Linked DNA regions of Homo sapiens: region 2 is linked to region 1. Evidence: fine-mapped expression QTL. Tissue or cell type: aorta. Region 1 holds a variant in brackets; the other region holds the start of a gene. All regions are shown on one strand. Distances are from middle to middle.

Evidence for each region. PIP is the estimated chance that this variant, and not a neighbour inherited with it, causes the effect.
Region 2: MET starts here. The variant in region 1 is fine-mapped to the expression of MET in aorta (GTEx, PIP above 0.99). The same link has a PIP of 0.9 or more in tibial artery.

What each region holds. Positions count from the first base shown.
Region 1 is chr7:116,774,517-116,782,625 of GRCh38, reverse strand. MET (MET proto-oncogene, receptor tyrosine kinase) reads right to left here. Exons shown (of 21, transcript NM_000245.4): 15 at 7,515-7,745; 16 at 5,157-5,237; 17 at 3,669-3,850; 18 at 529-638. Among named protein-coding and RNA genes, the nearest start is that of CAPZA2, 84 kb to the left of the region's middle. RefSeq lists enhancers at 1-919, 920-1,848, 5,400-6,599. The variant C/G (reference allele first, on the strand shown) is at 4,832.
Region 2 is chr7:116,668,695-116,676,803 of GRCh38, reverse strand. MET (MET proto-oncogene, receptor tyrosine kinase) reads right to left here and starts at 4,608. Exons shown (of 21, transcript NM_000245.4): 1 at 4,227-4,608. All of the region lies in intron 1 of COMETT (cytosolic oncogenic antisense to MET transcript), which reads left to right. RefSeq lists silencers at 4,441-4,630, 4,691-4,820, 4,951-5,000.

The DNA.
Region 1 (8,109 bases):
GCAAGGGAAAACATGAACTCAATTACAAACTGTTGACTGTTGTATTACATAGCCAGGCAGCCAGACACAAATAAAGTTCTTTGTATATTCATTGCCAAATACCATTTTTGGTAGGGCTTCTGCAGGCTGGCTTCAAATCCACTCTTGGGAAGTTGCAATATGTTGGTATTTGTGTTCCCAGCCCTCTCCTTTTCACTGTCAAATGCTGAAGATCAAATTCTCCCTCCCCAACACTAATGCAGTGTGAAACCACAACATTGAGAGCTACTGGAGGGAAGGACTGAGAAAAGCAAAAGTACACAACAGCTGTTTAAGACCCCCTATGGAGAATCCTTTTAAATTCTCTGTTGGATAAAGTCTGAAAGTCCCACCCACATCCCCAGGGCTTACACATCGATTTAAGATTGTAACAGAAATAAAGGACTTTTGCATAAGAAGAGAAAACAGCTTAACTAGCATTGAACAGTGGGAAACAGATTCCTCCTTGTCACTTAATTTGGATTGTGGCACAGAGATTCTGATACTTACATACAGTTTCTTGCAGCCAAGTCTCTGTGGACAAACTTTTTGCTTGCAAGATATTTCATGCCTTTGGCTACTTGAAGACCAAAGCCAATAAGATCTTTTACAGTTGGATTCTGCAGTCAAAGAGAGTTAGAAAAGCATAAACTAAGCATCTACTGTTCTAATTTTGACCTTAGAATTCTGAAATATTTATTTATAAAAAATTATCTTGTCTCAAAAATTAGTTTGGTCTTAATGGCTCAAGCCTGTAATCCCAGAACTTTGAGAGGCCAAGGCGAGAGGATGGCTTGAGGCCAGGAGTTTGAGATCAGCCTGGGCAACACAGTGAGATCCTGTCTTTACTCCCATCCACCGCCCACAAAAAAATTAGCCTGGTGTGGTGGTGTGCACCTATAGTCCCAGCTGCTTAGGAGTCTGAGGAAGGAGGATTGCTTGAGCCCAGGAGTTGGATACTGCAGTGCACTATGACTGTGCCACTGCACTCCAGCCTGGGTGACAGAGACCTTGTCTCCAAAAACAAAAAACAAAACAACAACAACAAAAAGTGTGCCCCATTGACAGATCAACCATTTGTTAAGTATTTATTGTATGCAACACACCAGGCTAATTGTTTTCATAAATTACAGCTACTTCTACACTTCTGTCAGGCAGGTGTTACAGGCTCCATTTTCCAGATGGGAAAATGGAGGTGTTTTAAAATGTAGTTTTATTATTTTCCAGGTATGATGAGGCCAACAGAACAGGAGACAACTGCCATTGAAAAGATAGTTTGCTATTCACAGTTTGCAAGAGGAGGAGGCACACCCTGTCATGCAGGGTCACATGGGGGAAGCCCTGGGCTCTAGAGGCAGAGAGAGAGAGGGGAAAAACATGAGCAAGAGCCTTCATTGCAGTTTCCCTGGGAAGAAACTGGTAAGGCAGGGTAAGCAGGTTTGGAGCTGGCCAATCTGGAGTATTTCAGCAGGCTCCGAGGATAGTTCTAGTTGTCTGGAACTGGGCCCTGGGGTGATTAGGGCAGGTGGATAGTAGCCCAAAGTGTAAGAGCCTGATAAAGGAGGAGGTTAGATAAGGGCTCTGGATTGGTTGGTTTGCACATGACAGGTATGCTTTGAAGGCAAGCTGTTTACTATTTGCAGGAATTAGCTAGCCTTGGGAGGGACAGTTCCTCCAGGGTTAGTAAGGCCCAAGATGTTAGAACATCAGAAGCACAGTGAATAGAGGAGGCTCAGAAAGAAATCACCCCAAACCACTCAGCTGTCAAGTCTGGTGATGTCACTGGCTGGCAATCAGGAATGGGGTATTCCCCTTCAACAGTCACTGAGGAGTTTGTCAGTGCAAGATGTAGTCAGTGGGGACCCTGCAAAAGGGCTGTAGCCCCACTCAATGCACACAGCATAGAGAAAGGCCAGTTCCTGGTTTTAGGTTTCTCTTTAAGACACATCTGGGTTTGTGGTTGCTCTCAGTATCAGCTCCTTGGATTAAAAAAGGCCATGGCACTATTCCGTTCTGGATAACAGGAAATCTCTATCATGCTTTAATCCTGGGGTAACAGTACCCTAGAGAAGGTAGCACCTCCAGCCACATTAATCCATCAGGGTAATAACAAAAGTTGAAGTGGGAAAGTGGGGTCTGTCAGGGCAGCTGTGTGCTTTGTAAGGTCAATTCGCCTTATCTGCAAAAGTTCACTGCCAGGGAATGTTTTATTCTTTTGGCTGAGTAATATCTCATTACTCTCCTAGAGCTTATTTTCTCTGATAATTTGACCCCATATTTATAAAGTTGCTTTTGATCAACTTCATTACCTCCCACAGAGACTTGGAGAGCAGGAACCGAGACGGAGCTTGAGGCCTTCTATGAATTCAGTTCTTGAGATTCTTATTCCCACCCTCCCTGGTCCTGGCCTGGTGACTTTTAGGTCCTGGCATAAATGTCAAGAAAAAAATCTACCACTTGCAAGAGGCTAAGAACCTTTTTTTGTAACCCTTAGCTGATTCATTCAACAATTATTTACTGCGAGTCTATGTGCTAAACACTGTTTTAGGTGTTGGAGCCACAGCAGTGAACAAAATACACAAAAATCCTACCCTCATGAGCTTCCATTCTAATGGGATGAGGGTGTGTGTACATATATATGCATACATATACATCTATATAGCTATTGTTTATTTGTTTATTATCTACTACAGTGCTATTCAATAGAAATATAAAGCAAGACACACATGTAATATAAAATTTTCTAGTAGCCATACTCAAAAGTAAAAAGAAACAGGTGAAATTAATTTTCACAATGTATTTTTCAACCCCCAAAATCCAAAATATTTCAGCATGTAATCAATATAAACAACTACTAGTGAGATATTTCACCTTCTTTTTTTTTTAATACTAAGTATTCAGAATCTGGGATGTATTCTACACCGTACAGCACATTTCAGTTCGAACTAGCCTCCTTTTACATGTGGCTCATGGCCATAGTATTGGGCAGCTTCAGGCAGCTTCATGCATGTATCAGATGACAGTTAAGTGTGATGGGGGAAAATAGAGCAGGGAAGAGGAGTCTGAAGCCATGAGGGTGGGTGGTCAGTTGCAATTTTAAACAGATTAGGGAAGGCTTATGTTGAAGATGGCATTACGGCCAAAAGCTGAAGAAGATGAGGAAGTGAGATACGTGGCTATTTGCGGGGAGAGTGTTCCAGGCTGAGGGAGCACAAGTGCAAAGTTCCTGAGGTGTGAGAGTGGATGGCAAGGACAAGGAACAGCAAGGAACGCATCTGGAGTTAATTTTTCAATGCCTTGTAGAGTTAACATTCCATATGGGCTGAGGCTTGCTCTGCTTCCACTTCTCCTGTGCTGTGCACAGTTTCTGGCACATAGTAGACATGCAAAGATGACTAAATGTCCCTATCAGAGGGAAGGTAGAGCAAGGTTGCTTGCAGAGCAAGTAAGAATCATTGCTCCAGGAAACCCTTCCAGGTGTCACTATTTCCCACCAGGATAGAAGACTTTGAGGTGCATTTGAATGATGCTAACATTTTAAATGTGCATCTTTGGCTACTAGCTTTTTAAAGACTCAGAGCAGGCCTATTTTGAAGGGATGGCTGGCTTACAGCTAGTTTGCCAGTTAGTAAGCTTGGCAGTCAACTTACATGAGTCTCATTTCGAATGAAATTTCGAAGATCTCCATGTTTCATGTATGGTAGGACCACCAGCGGAGACCCTTCACTTCGCAGGCAGATTCCCAGGAGCGAGAGGACATTGGGATGACTAAAATCTTTCATGATGATTCCCTCGGTCAGAAATTGGGAAACTTCTCCTATGTCAGTGATTCCTGAGAAATCCAGTGGTGGAGACATTAACTTCATTATGGAACAGTGAATACTTTTGTCAAATTTAGATAGGAAGAGCAATGAAATGGTAAACCACACAGTTAGCATCTTGTCCTGAGGGTTTGACTGCAGAGTGTTCTTTTTACATCACATCTGAGTGAATGATGCCACCGTGCACTGTGCCTTCCAGTCACCACCTATGCCCACTTTTGCAAGATAGAGTCCAACCAGCCACCAGTTTGTCTCCTATAAACTTAGTGCAAAGGTTATACTTAGGTTTCATAAAGACTGTCCATTTATTTCCCTCATGGTCAGACTTCCAACAAAATTAACCATGTAGAACACTACTTAGCATGTTGATTTATATTTTAAAAAGACTGAAATAATTGTGACAGTAAAGTATCTTGCAGGAAAATCTTTCATTTGTGCACTTAAAGCTTATTAAGTCCCATATAAAGTTTGTAGTAGAGCTGGTTAACATTTTTCAGGCTGCTGCAATTTGCAAGCAGAAAATGAGAAATGGGAGTAGAAAACGCAAGCATGTGAGACCTGTCAACACAGGCGGAGCCAGGAACACTATGTATGTGGAGTACACTGTTTGTGTAATATAGTAATTTATGGCTGTAATTATGGCTTGGGGTCACCAATAAAGACTTAGTTTGTATTTGGAAGCATTCCCTTAAACAGAGTATGCATTTCATCTTAAAAAGATTTTCTCAATAACAGCTAAAATTTTAAGTAATGTTCCAGCATTAAAAAGGGGTAGGTTTCATTTATTTAGGAAGTTCATGTATGTGGAATGCCTCACTCTCCAAAAATGTGGATAAATGAGGTATTACCATACTTATGATTTTTCAATTTTTGGCCAGCGTAGTTTTCTCCTGTTTGTCTTATTTCATTTTTTATCTTTTTAATGGAAGTTGTGGTTAAAAAATAATTATAGTAATGCCTCTGGGTAAAATGAGTCATTACTACTGTAGGTG[C/G]CAACATGCTTCCAATAGTTTCCAGAAATGTCACTTGCAAAACAAATATTATAAACCAAACATAGTTATAGTTAAATGATACTCAGTTCATCCAAGAACCTCATTTCTCCTACCCCCTTACTAATGAGGGCTCTGAGGGATCATTTCAGGGGAAGTAGTTCAATAAAAGTCTAGAACAAAACAAATTTTCAGGATTAGGCCCATAATTTCAGTGGTAGCTGATTTTTCCACAAGGGGAAAGTGTAAATCAACGTTTTATTATAAGCTATTTATTAGGTTGCAAACCACAAAAGTATACTCCATGGTTAAATAAAATGCCACTTACTGTTCAAGGATTTCACAGCACAGTGAATTTTCTTGCCATCATTGTCCAACAAAGTCCCATGATATACACAACCAAAATGCCCTGTGCAAAAGAAAGAACTTGGTTAGCACTGCGTAACATTTAATTATGAAATAATTATTTATCAAACCCTTTATGAGCTTCATTTTATTCTTTCTTCTTTCTATACAGCAAAAGAGTACATTTAAAAAATACTTTTAACAATACCACTATAGGTACGTAGGTGTGTTTGTAAATATATATGTAGATGCAACACATTTCACCCAAGGATATAAGCAATGTGATTATTTAATTCATGAATAAGTTGTAGATGATATGACTCATATTAAAGCCTAACCTAATAAAATATTCAACCACAGTGGAACCACTGAAAAGGTGAGTAACATCGGCCTCATCAAATAAATTTTTTTAAAGGATGACATAGTATTTTAAAATATGAAAATAAAGTTAACCCACATGAAGAACTATAATAAAATAAGTTCTCTATATTCTAATAAGCTGAAATGAAATAAAAATGTTACCATTAAAAATAGGATTAGTATTATAGAATAAGGATTTCCCCATTAGTCACTGGTTAATACGTAATCCAGGTTGGCAGAAACTGAAAGGCAGTTGCCCAGATGAAGCAAATTCACCCTGACTCACTTCATCCAGTTCTCTCTGGCTTTAACCACATCATTTTCCCAATGGTAGCCTTTTATCCAGTGGCAGTAATTTCCCCCAGAGGTGCCAAATGTCTGATAGCTGTGTAAGTCATTCACTAATTAATTCATCCAGCTGGCCAAGACACCATGAGTGCCTAGTATGTGAGTGTCAGGCATTAGGCTGCCCTCTACTAATGCAAAGAAGAATAAAATAAAACTTATGCTTTTGAGTGCTCCTATTCTCCTGCAGAAAAACATATAAATACATAGTAGCTAATATTTATAGAGCTGTTAATGATTATAACTTCAAAAGAGAAATAATTGCCATTTTAGTACCTTTCATGATAAAAAATTCTAGTTTTCCAAATGTGTAGAATTAGAACACAATTAGTGAGTCCACACACTCTAAAATTGATGCAATTACTGGGATTTATAGGCCTATGACAGAACTATATATTACTCTGAAGAGAAATGGAAAGATGTTTGTTAACAGTGAAGCCACTCTTGGGGAAGAAGGAGCACACAAAGGATTACGCTCTGGGGTGTTTGACAGAAGAATGTGTGGATGCTACCACAGGAAAGTGAGAAGGCCTTGTGTTCATATAAGGGAAATCACGCCATCAGCTTCTCTTGTATCACACTGGCAGATGCCTGTACAACCTCTTGCAGCACATATAGAATAAAAGGGATCAGAGGCCATTTAGTATTAAGGGTAAAAGCTTTTTAGAAAAAAAAAAACAACAAGAAGAATGAAGTTCATTTCCCGGTTTTTGATTGGTTTCTTTTCCTGCTAAATATTTCCACAAATACTGTTTATGCTAGCTGTTATTGCTGCTTTGGCTAGCTTATTACAAATATTCATTTATCTTTGTATAAAGAAATTGGAGTGCATTGTAGAGATGATATATGTTGCTTTAGATCAGGAGAATGCTATAAATTCTCTGTCTTCTGATGCTGTCCAGCAGTGTACAAACTGCTATAAACCAGGCTTCATAGAGTTTGTCACTGTTCTCAGGGTAAAGAAAGACTGGAGAGAGATTGAATAAAAATACTCAAAATTAAAGGAGTGATATTTATTTATTTATAAGTATTTATTTTTTTGACATGGAGTCTCGCTCTGCTGCCCAGGCTGGAGTGCTGTGGCACAACCTTGGCTCACTGCAACTTCCACCTCCTGGGTTCAAGCAATTCTCCTTGCTTCAGCCTCCCCAGTAGTTGGGATTAAAGGCACCCGCCACCACGCCTGGCTAATTTTTGTATTTTTTTAGTAGAGACGGGGTTTTGCCATGTTGGCCAGGATGGTTTTGAACTCCTGACCTCAGGTGATCCACCTGCCTCGGCCTCCCAAAGTGCTGGGATTACACGTGTGAGCCACTGCGCCTGGCCCTGAGTTTTAGAAGAAAGTAAATGGCACCTTTGAAGAAACTATAATTGCTAGTACACACAGGACGAGGACGAATTGTGATTTAGTTCTAATATATTTGGGGGATTATCCAATTGCTTCCATGCACAAGGGCAAATCCCCACGGATATGATTTACAGGGCTACATTTCTATAGAACAGAAATCAAGTACACTTGTTATCACTGCTCTGTCAGTTGCTTTCACCATTGTCTAAGTTCCTAATCTGCAAAGGCCAAAGATAAAATGCTTACTGGAAAATCGTATTTAACAAAAAGCTGAGTGGAAATACTTACCTCTTCCTATGACTTCATTGAAATGCACAATCAGGCTACTGGGCCCAATCACTACATGCTGCACTGCCTGGACCAGCTCTGGATTTAGAGCACTGAGGTCAATGTGGACAGTATTTTGCAGTAATGGACTGGATATATCAGAGTCCCCACTAGTTAGGATGGGGGACATGTCTGTCAGAGGATACTGCACTTGTCGGCATGAACCGTTCTGAGATGAATTAGGAAACTGATCTGTAAGATGAAGGAAAATTATTAAAGAACAACAGTAAAACCTCATTTAATGGGGACTGAAACAGGAAGAGCTTTTATAATGGAATTAGTTTGATAAAAATGATAATAAATTGGGAAAAGATACTAAGTTATATATACAAGCATTTCATTAGATGTTTACAGATTTTCATTTAAGTAGACTAAGTATTAATTTTGAAAGCTTTTTACCCTCATTTCCTTAGACATTTCTCTCTTTATCAATAGCAAAAAGCCATGCTTATGGTTTATTTTTGAATATACTATGTCCTTAAGAATGGAAGCAGTGGTAGCAGCAAAGGTAGTTGAGCAATTGCCTCGTCTCACAAAAATCCAGCTCAAATATAAG
Region 2 (8,109 bases), 110 kb after region 1:
AAGCTGTGAACTGCACAATTTCAGGAAAAACAAGATGAGAATAGCACTCCTGAGAAGTGCTCCTCATATGCGCCTGGCTCACTTCCTTATCTCCTTCAGATTCTAGCCCAAAGCCCACCTTTGAAGACAAGCCTTCCCTGACCTCACTATTGAGTTTTTCAATCACCATCCCACTCTCTCTTATCCTTGACAGTCACTATTCTCTTTTCCATTTTATTCTACCTTGAAGCTATTATCATCACCTGACATACAACACATTTCAGTTATGTATTTCTTTATTGTTTGCCAACTCAATAGAACAGAGTGTCATGAGGTTAGAGGTTTTCATCTGTTTTATACTCTGTGGAAATGCCAGATTTTAGAACTATGCCTCGTAGGTTGTCAAAAAATTGTCCTGAATGAATGACTAAATCCTCATTCACATTCTTGGAGTACAGGAACCTGGCTTTCACGATAACTTGTGATTCTCTAAGCACATTTCATAATTGCTATCCTTAATTATATTAGGAGAGATACATTTTCAAATTCTATTGCCCATTATATAATCGCCTGTGGGCCCTATAGCTACATAATTTATTATAGAAATTAAAATCAATGGGAGTAACCTACATAAACATACTTGCACACATTTATGCAATCACAGAGAGAAATATGTGTACCTGGGTATGTGATTACAAAGTTAACTTTTTTATTTCACTGAGCTCATACCTCCTGCTACAAATGCCACACGTGATTTTTTCTCTCAATTAAGTTTTACAGCTTATAAAAGCACTTTTTTCATTTTGTCCCATGAAAAGCAAAGTAGTCAGATTTTACTGGATGTTTTTATTGAAACAAATCCCAAGCGGAATATACTAACCTGTTTAACACAGCTGAAAAGATATCTGAGAATGGGCTTTCTGATAGAAGGATAGATTACAAAATTATTCACGGCTCTTAATCTGATAACAGGAGCAGAATGCCCCACACATATGAATGAAACCTTTTCTCGGTATGTCTCACTACAAAGAAAAGAAAAAAAGAAAAGAAAAGAAATTAAAAAAAAAAAAGAGAGAGAGAACTGGAGAAAGAGAAGGTGACAAAAACTCCAGGGACTAGATATGTTATATTCATCATTTACCACTATCTTAAGCATCCCTAATGATGCCTCCATGGAAAATGTTTCCAATAGTTGATGGCTGAGGAAAGGTGGTATGGTGCTATTGAAATAGCATGGAGCTAGTCTCAAGCTCAGTTTCCTTGTCTATAACATAAGAATGTTAAGATGTTATCAGACTTGCCTATCTTGTAAGGTCGTTTTGGTATCAGAAAGGTGATGTATGCAGAAACAGCTTGAAAATGTTAAGGTTTTTAAGTTCCAAACTTTGATTTTTAAAAAAAAATTCTATTATTTCATAGCAAATAGGATGATTTTGAAAGCGTTTCTCATGTGATGTCCTCTTAATAATTATGAATTTGTGTTCATTTAATATGTGATATTTGTCTGTGTATCTAGATCATAAACTTCTCAAGGGCAGATTCCATTTCTTTCTTTTAAAGAAAATGCTGTAGTACCTAGCACATATGATACTCTACCTATAGGTCCTAGCTATTTTTGGTCAGGCAAATGTGGATCTAGCAGCAACTCAGTGTCAGTTGAGAACACATCATCAAAGTGATTCTGAACTAACATTAGTCAGTGTATCTATCATTTATTACTGAGAAGTGACTATTTATTTTGCACTGAGCAAAACCCATGAAGAAACTCTGCCCTAAGGGCTTGGTGTCAAAAACACTAGTTTCAGCATACACCAGCCAGGAAAAGAAGGCTCACTTCCGGACACTTGAGTTTCTACATACATTTTCTCCCCTTAAGAGGGCACAATGAGGAAATTGAGTATCCTATGAATAAACACAGCAGACCAAGGAAATCTTAGGGATTTAGACCACGGAAAAGAAAGCGTAGATGGCTCTGGCGAGAATCACTAAGCCTAATGCCTAAAGAAGAAACGAGCAAACTGGGCTGGAGAAATGGGGGCACGGAAGGCCTTGAAAGCAGCTCTGACCAAACCAAGGGAAAGGGTTGAGGAGGAAGAGGACAGAGAAATGGGAGGTAATCTGAATGTGTGAGGAACTGTGCTCACCATGGGGGTGTTGCCATGTCTTTGGTGCAGCCACTTGGAGAAAATAAGCCAGTTAGAGGATGTTAGCTCCTCTGAGTTATTCACGTTGTTTTGAGATGACCACATTTGAGAAAAAGTTAATTTGAGACTATTATGTAGATCTGCAGAAGGATAATATGACTAATGCTACTTCAAACACTATTTTAAAAACAGCTAAGGAAATTGATTTTTGAAATGTATTTCTTAGTCTAGCCCTCATTAAGACAATTTTTTTTTAAAGATTTCAAGATTAATGCAAGGCATATACTTACATAGTCTTAAAAGGAATTTATAAAATATGGGTATTTCTCCTGCTTAGCAAAGGGTCATTTTTCTCTATTATAGGTTTAAAAGTAGTGAAAATATTAGTTATGAGCTTTCGTATTGACTGGCTATGATTAATCTGGTACATTTTTTATCATGAAGATAAACTCCATCAACTAATTTTGAAAGCATGTAGTATACATCTAATGTAAACCCCTACTGCCATGTATCAAGAACAAAGCAATTTTGAAAAAGCAGTAGTCGGCAGACTGTCTTCTATATGCCACAAATTCCATCATGTTAAAAGCAAAATATATTTAAGTTAATAACTATAGCTTATACACCATTAAGTTTGAAAACGGAATAGAATTTTTAAAACAGCAGTACATTTTATAGGCTATCAGACACATTTTTGTACTACCAAAATTTCTTATGAATGATGTAAATTTTCCCTCTGTTATTCAGCAGTTCAAAAAGAATGAACATTGAATACACCACAGACTTGCAAATGATAGGAACCAAAGTACCTCACTTATGTTCCATTATGGAAGTTTACACGTTCAAAACAAAGCTCAATTAGCTTAGATCAAGGAAGGAAAGCTATGTACCTGTAAATAATCCAAGCACCACTTACACTGTTTACATAAAAATGCAATTTATGTCCCTGTAGCACAGAGAAACATGATGTACATCATTTTCAGATCATCTTCATGCAGAAAAAATTCATTAGTCAGCTATAATAGTTTAGCTGTAAGGGAATATAATGTTTTTCTGAATCCATTTGCATGGCAATGTGCATGTGTCTGGCTGATGAAAGCGACAGAATAAACCCCCACCCAAAGCTACAGAATGTGAACAGTCTTCTTAAAATTCAAGAGAGGGTCCAGATAGTCTATATTGCCTCCAACGTCAGTTCTTACAATCCTCTCACATTCATGGACCATCTTAACATAGCAATTAAAGTATCTTGATTATTTTGCCTAAGAGAGTTGACAATATTTCATTCTGCCCGAGGGCTCCTTTGAACATAAAACTGTGATAAGGTAAAATACACTGGGCAACTATTCATGCGTGAGCCATTGGAGCCCTCTCCAACTGCCAAATTAGCAAATGGCTCTTTTAAAACATGAAAGATATGAATGGGAAACCGTACTTCGGAGTAAATTCTGCATTGACAATAGTCAGGGAAAGTACTTTCACTGGTGCTTTAATTATCGGGTCAGCACTACGACTGGCCACATCGCTCAGCCTCTGGTTATAATCTATTTCACCTAATAAGATAGATGTCCACCACAAGCCCCAGAAAGAGATAAGGTACGATGGAAAATTGATGGATCACAAGCCCCGCGTGATTGCCAGAAATGAATTCAGACTTTCACAGAAACACCTGCCCCTTGGAAGGACCCCAACATAACACAGATAAAGCAAGGCTGGGAACAAGGAAACAGCTCGGCTCAAACCTTGCCAGCTGCATCACGGTGGGACGAGGATGACCGGATCCCTTTTGTAAGGGCTGAGTCAGATCCCAGCTTTAAAACTTGCTGGGCCGTAACAGTCACACATCACCCACTGTCCCAGCGCCCCTCTCCCTCCTAAGTCATACAGGTGGCCATCAGAAGCAACCCCCTAAAAAGACAAGCCCCATTCTAGTTTCGTCCTCGCCGTGGCCACGTCTCTTCAGTTTCCGAAGCCCCTAAACTCTAGCCCACCTACGTGGTTTTGCCCCCTGGAACAGCAGTCAGGTCTCTTAGGGGAACAAAGAAAGCAGAACCCCTGAGGCGAGGGATTGGGTACTGGATCTGAAAGGGGCTGCAATTTTACCTTTCGGTGCCCAGGAACCAGTGGAGAAGTCAGCGGCGCAAGGACCACACGCGCGCTCCGCGCCTCCCCGCCTCCTCTCAGCAAGTCAGCTGTCGCCCCGCATCTGGCTCGCGCCCTCCACTCGGCTCCGCATCTGCTCACAAAGCGCTCGGGGCGCCGCGGGCGGCGAGGGCCTCCGGGTCACCTGCGGCCGGGCTGAGCCCAGCGCCCCGCCCGCCCGCCGGCCGCACTCCCTCCGCCCCTTCCCACACGCGCGCTGCCCTGCCAGTGACTCAGCCGGGCATCGGCGCGCGCGGCCCGCGGCGGCCCGGGCGCGTTGGGGCCGGAGGCACCGCCAGGCGACCAGACTGAGGCGCTCGCCTGCCCGCCCCAGCACGTGTCTGTCTGCCTCGCGTGCTGTCCGTCCCCTAGTCCGCGGGTTCCGAGGACCGCTGAGGTGGGGACTGGCACCACCCAGAGGGAAATCGGCCCCCGCCCTTCCTGCCGTCCGCGCCGCGCCTGGCCCCGCGGGGGTCGCGTTTCCTCCCGCCTCTGCCCCGCCCACGACAAGGTGAAACTTTCTAGGTGGAGAAGTTTTCTCGCCCTGGCTGCGCGCTCTCCTCCCCCAGCTCAGGCAGTCTGAAGTTAGCACAGCCGGAGATAAGCGGGACCGAGTCTCCCCCTCCTGGCGCTTGGGAGGCGAGTGTCACCCCGGGCTCAGATGCAGGGCGCGCACCCTCCTGGCACCCCGCTCGCTGACCCCGGGAAGGGCGCGAGCTTTGCTCTCGGCCTCTCCCACGTCTCCGCTAACCGCCCCGCGCCCACCCGGGTTTAGAGAGATTTGGGCACCGCAGAAACAAGGAGTTCATTGTTAGAGGCGGAGGTAGAAGTGGATGGACGAATTGTCCCAATGATTTCATTATGCAACGATTATCCTCTACTATAATAACTCAAATTTCTGCAAGGAAGAACAACAGAGGAGTTTAACCCTGAGGAGACTTCCATTTCTTTTTTTCTTTTTTTTTTTTTCCATAGCCGGAAGCAGGCTGATTAAATAACTGGGCAAATAGCGATGAATAAGCACAACAGAACAAAAGTTTAATTCTTGAATGTTGAAATCTTATGATGATTTTTAAAAAAGAGCTTTTGGGGCCTCGGTGAACTCTATTAGGAGTAATTGTGTTGGGATAACTTTGTATTTCGCTATAAAAATTGGCACCTACAAGAGTAAATGAACACTCAAAGGTAATAGGATCTAAGGAACGGGCATTGCCGGTTAGAACTTGAGTTCGTTCCGGCTCTCATACCAACTTGTTCAATCATGGCAATAGATAATGAGACATAGATATCTTCGTTATTGAAAGTCATGGGTTAAAATAACAGTTACTATGCAGGTTCAGTTCTTATTTACTACAGAATGAAACATAGAAAAATGTAGTAAGAATAGTTATCATTTCCCAAGTGCCAGGCACTTGGAAATGATAATGTAACCAGAGGTTACATAAGAGTGATTTCAGTCCTCAAAAGAGATTACCTCTTGATTCCCCAGTTTTATGGAAAAGGAAAGTTCCCATTACGTTACTAAAGTCTTGCATTGAACCATTTTGCAGGTAAAGAAACTGAGTCCCTAAAAGTTCCCAGGAGAGTCACATAGCTGGTTAGTAAGAGGGGCAAAGTTAGAACTTAGCTTTCAGCCCAGTCAGGTGTCCTTCACACCATACCAAGAGGCCTCAGCAGGCTAAATAAACAACGCGGCCTGACTGGAGATTTCCTGATACGGCATGGCATAATTTATCAATGACTATAGCTCATTAAAAAACACTAATTTACTGGTAATAAGGCACTGGGCCTATTTATGGACAGATCAATTACAGATTTTGGGTTCAGTAACAGCTTTCAATAAAAGATGAATAAATTAATGAATTTAAAAAGTTTTACACACACACACACACACACACACACACACACACAGAGCCATAGTTGTCTAAAGGAATGATTAGAGTGCTGTTTCTATTTCCTGGTTTCCATAGCAATATGTTAACTGGATTTTTAGATCACATTATGTAGTTGCCTTAACAGGTTTTCTGAGTTTGAGTGCCATGATAAAAATATAAAAGAAAAAATTTACAATTAAAGTTGTAGAAAGACCCAGAAAAGCCAATGCAAACTGGAAAATAAAATAGATGATAAATACAAACAACCCGTTGTGTATTTTCAGCACTGAAACTTTCTAGTTTCTAATAACTAACAAAATTTCAATCCAGTTTTGAAACTGTATTGAAAATCATCATTTCATTTATCAACTGTAAATAAGGAGATAACATTTTATGAAATAACATAACTAACAATAGCATAACTAAAAGTATCTGGGTGTGTGAAGGTCAAGTAATTTTTACACACTACCTAGACAGATTTGATTGGGAAAATGTTTACAGATAATTTCAGATTTTTGGAAATGAATGGAAACAGATATTTTAAAAGGTAATAGGAGTTCTATAATTCAATTTTGGTTTTGCAGCAAACTTTTAATTGTTGCTATTTAACTTTCCTTGGGTTCATGTCATGGGTGATACACTGTATGATGAAGTTCTGTTGGTATTTTCTTAACCAAACCAAATCTCTTGTGGTCCACACTGTTGGCTGGCTAAGCCAGCATCTGTTCCCAACGAGATTTTCCTGTTCCTGCCTCCACTCTTGGGGCTTGAAAAGAGAAATATTTGCTTTCCCAGACTCCTTTGCAGCTAGACATGGCCATGTGATGTCATTCTGGTAATGAGGTATAAGTTGAAGTCTGATGGGGCCTTGTGGGAAAGGGTTTAAGGCTGGTGCCACCCCTTTTCCTTTCTTGCTTCTTGATTTCATATATGATGCCCAGTGAAGAACTAACCATCTTGTGACCAGCATGCAGAAGTTGGTGCTGACATTGCTGAGGTACAGCCCTACTGCCAGTAGACACCTGCTTCCAGATTTCTTGTTTTGTGGAAAAAAAACAAAAACAAAACTTGTTCTAGACACTGGTAGCTGGGACTTCTGTCACCTGCAGCTGAAAGCAATTAAAACTGATAGACCCCTCAAATTGGGAACAACATCTCCAAGACTGAGTTGAGCATAATAGTTAAGAGTTTTAGAACCAAACAACCTGGATTTCAATCCCAGCTATGTCTCTTGCTAGCTGTGTAGCTACAGGCCAGTGGATTAAACTCTCTCGTGTCTCATCTGTGAAATGGGGATCATGATAGGGTTATTGTGAGGATAAAATGAGGAGCTACAAGTAGAGCACATGGAACAGTGTCTGGTAAAATATAAATGATCCAAAGGCATAAGCAGGTCTTATCCATCCACCTGTGGATAACATAATGTTGAACTACAAACAGGATCCCATCTCTTAACTTTGAGATGGGTCTAGTGATAGCTGTGACAAAGAGACAGAGGAACAGCCACCTCCTGCTCTAATATGCTCTATCTTTTTTTCCCTCCCTTTAACACATTAAAATTTGGGTCTTTGAAGGCACTCTTGAAGTTGGTGCTGTTTTTGAAATAAAAATGAAAGCAGTCTCCTAAGAATAGGGGCTTCATGCTTGCAATGTATGGTGAATAGGGCCCACAGACATATACAGGTGCACAGAATGTTTTTAAAAGTGTGAATTGAGGTAGAAAGACCATATGATCTGCTGTTTGCCATTGACCTACCATCTTCTCTTGGGTTGTGTCTGGCCCACCTCTGATCTTGATTTCACTTTCTCCTGTAGGCATTAGGATCTGTGATCCCTGCCTTAAAGAGTAGTTACTCTGGAACTCCTTCTTTCACTCTGTTTTTCCCTTCCTCCTGCCCCATCACCCCTATTATTGTGCCTATGGCAAATGTCTCTACAAAAAGACAATAGAAGAATTCAGGTAATGTCAC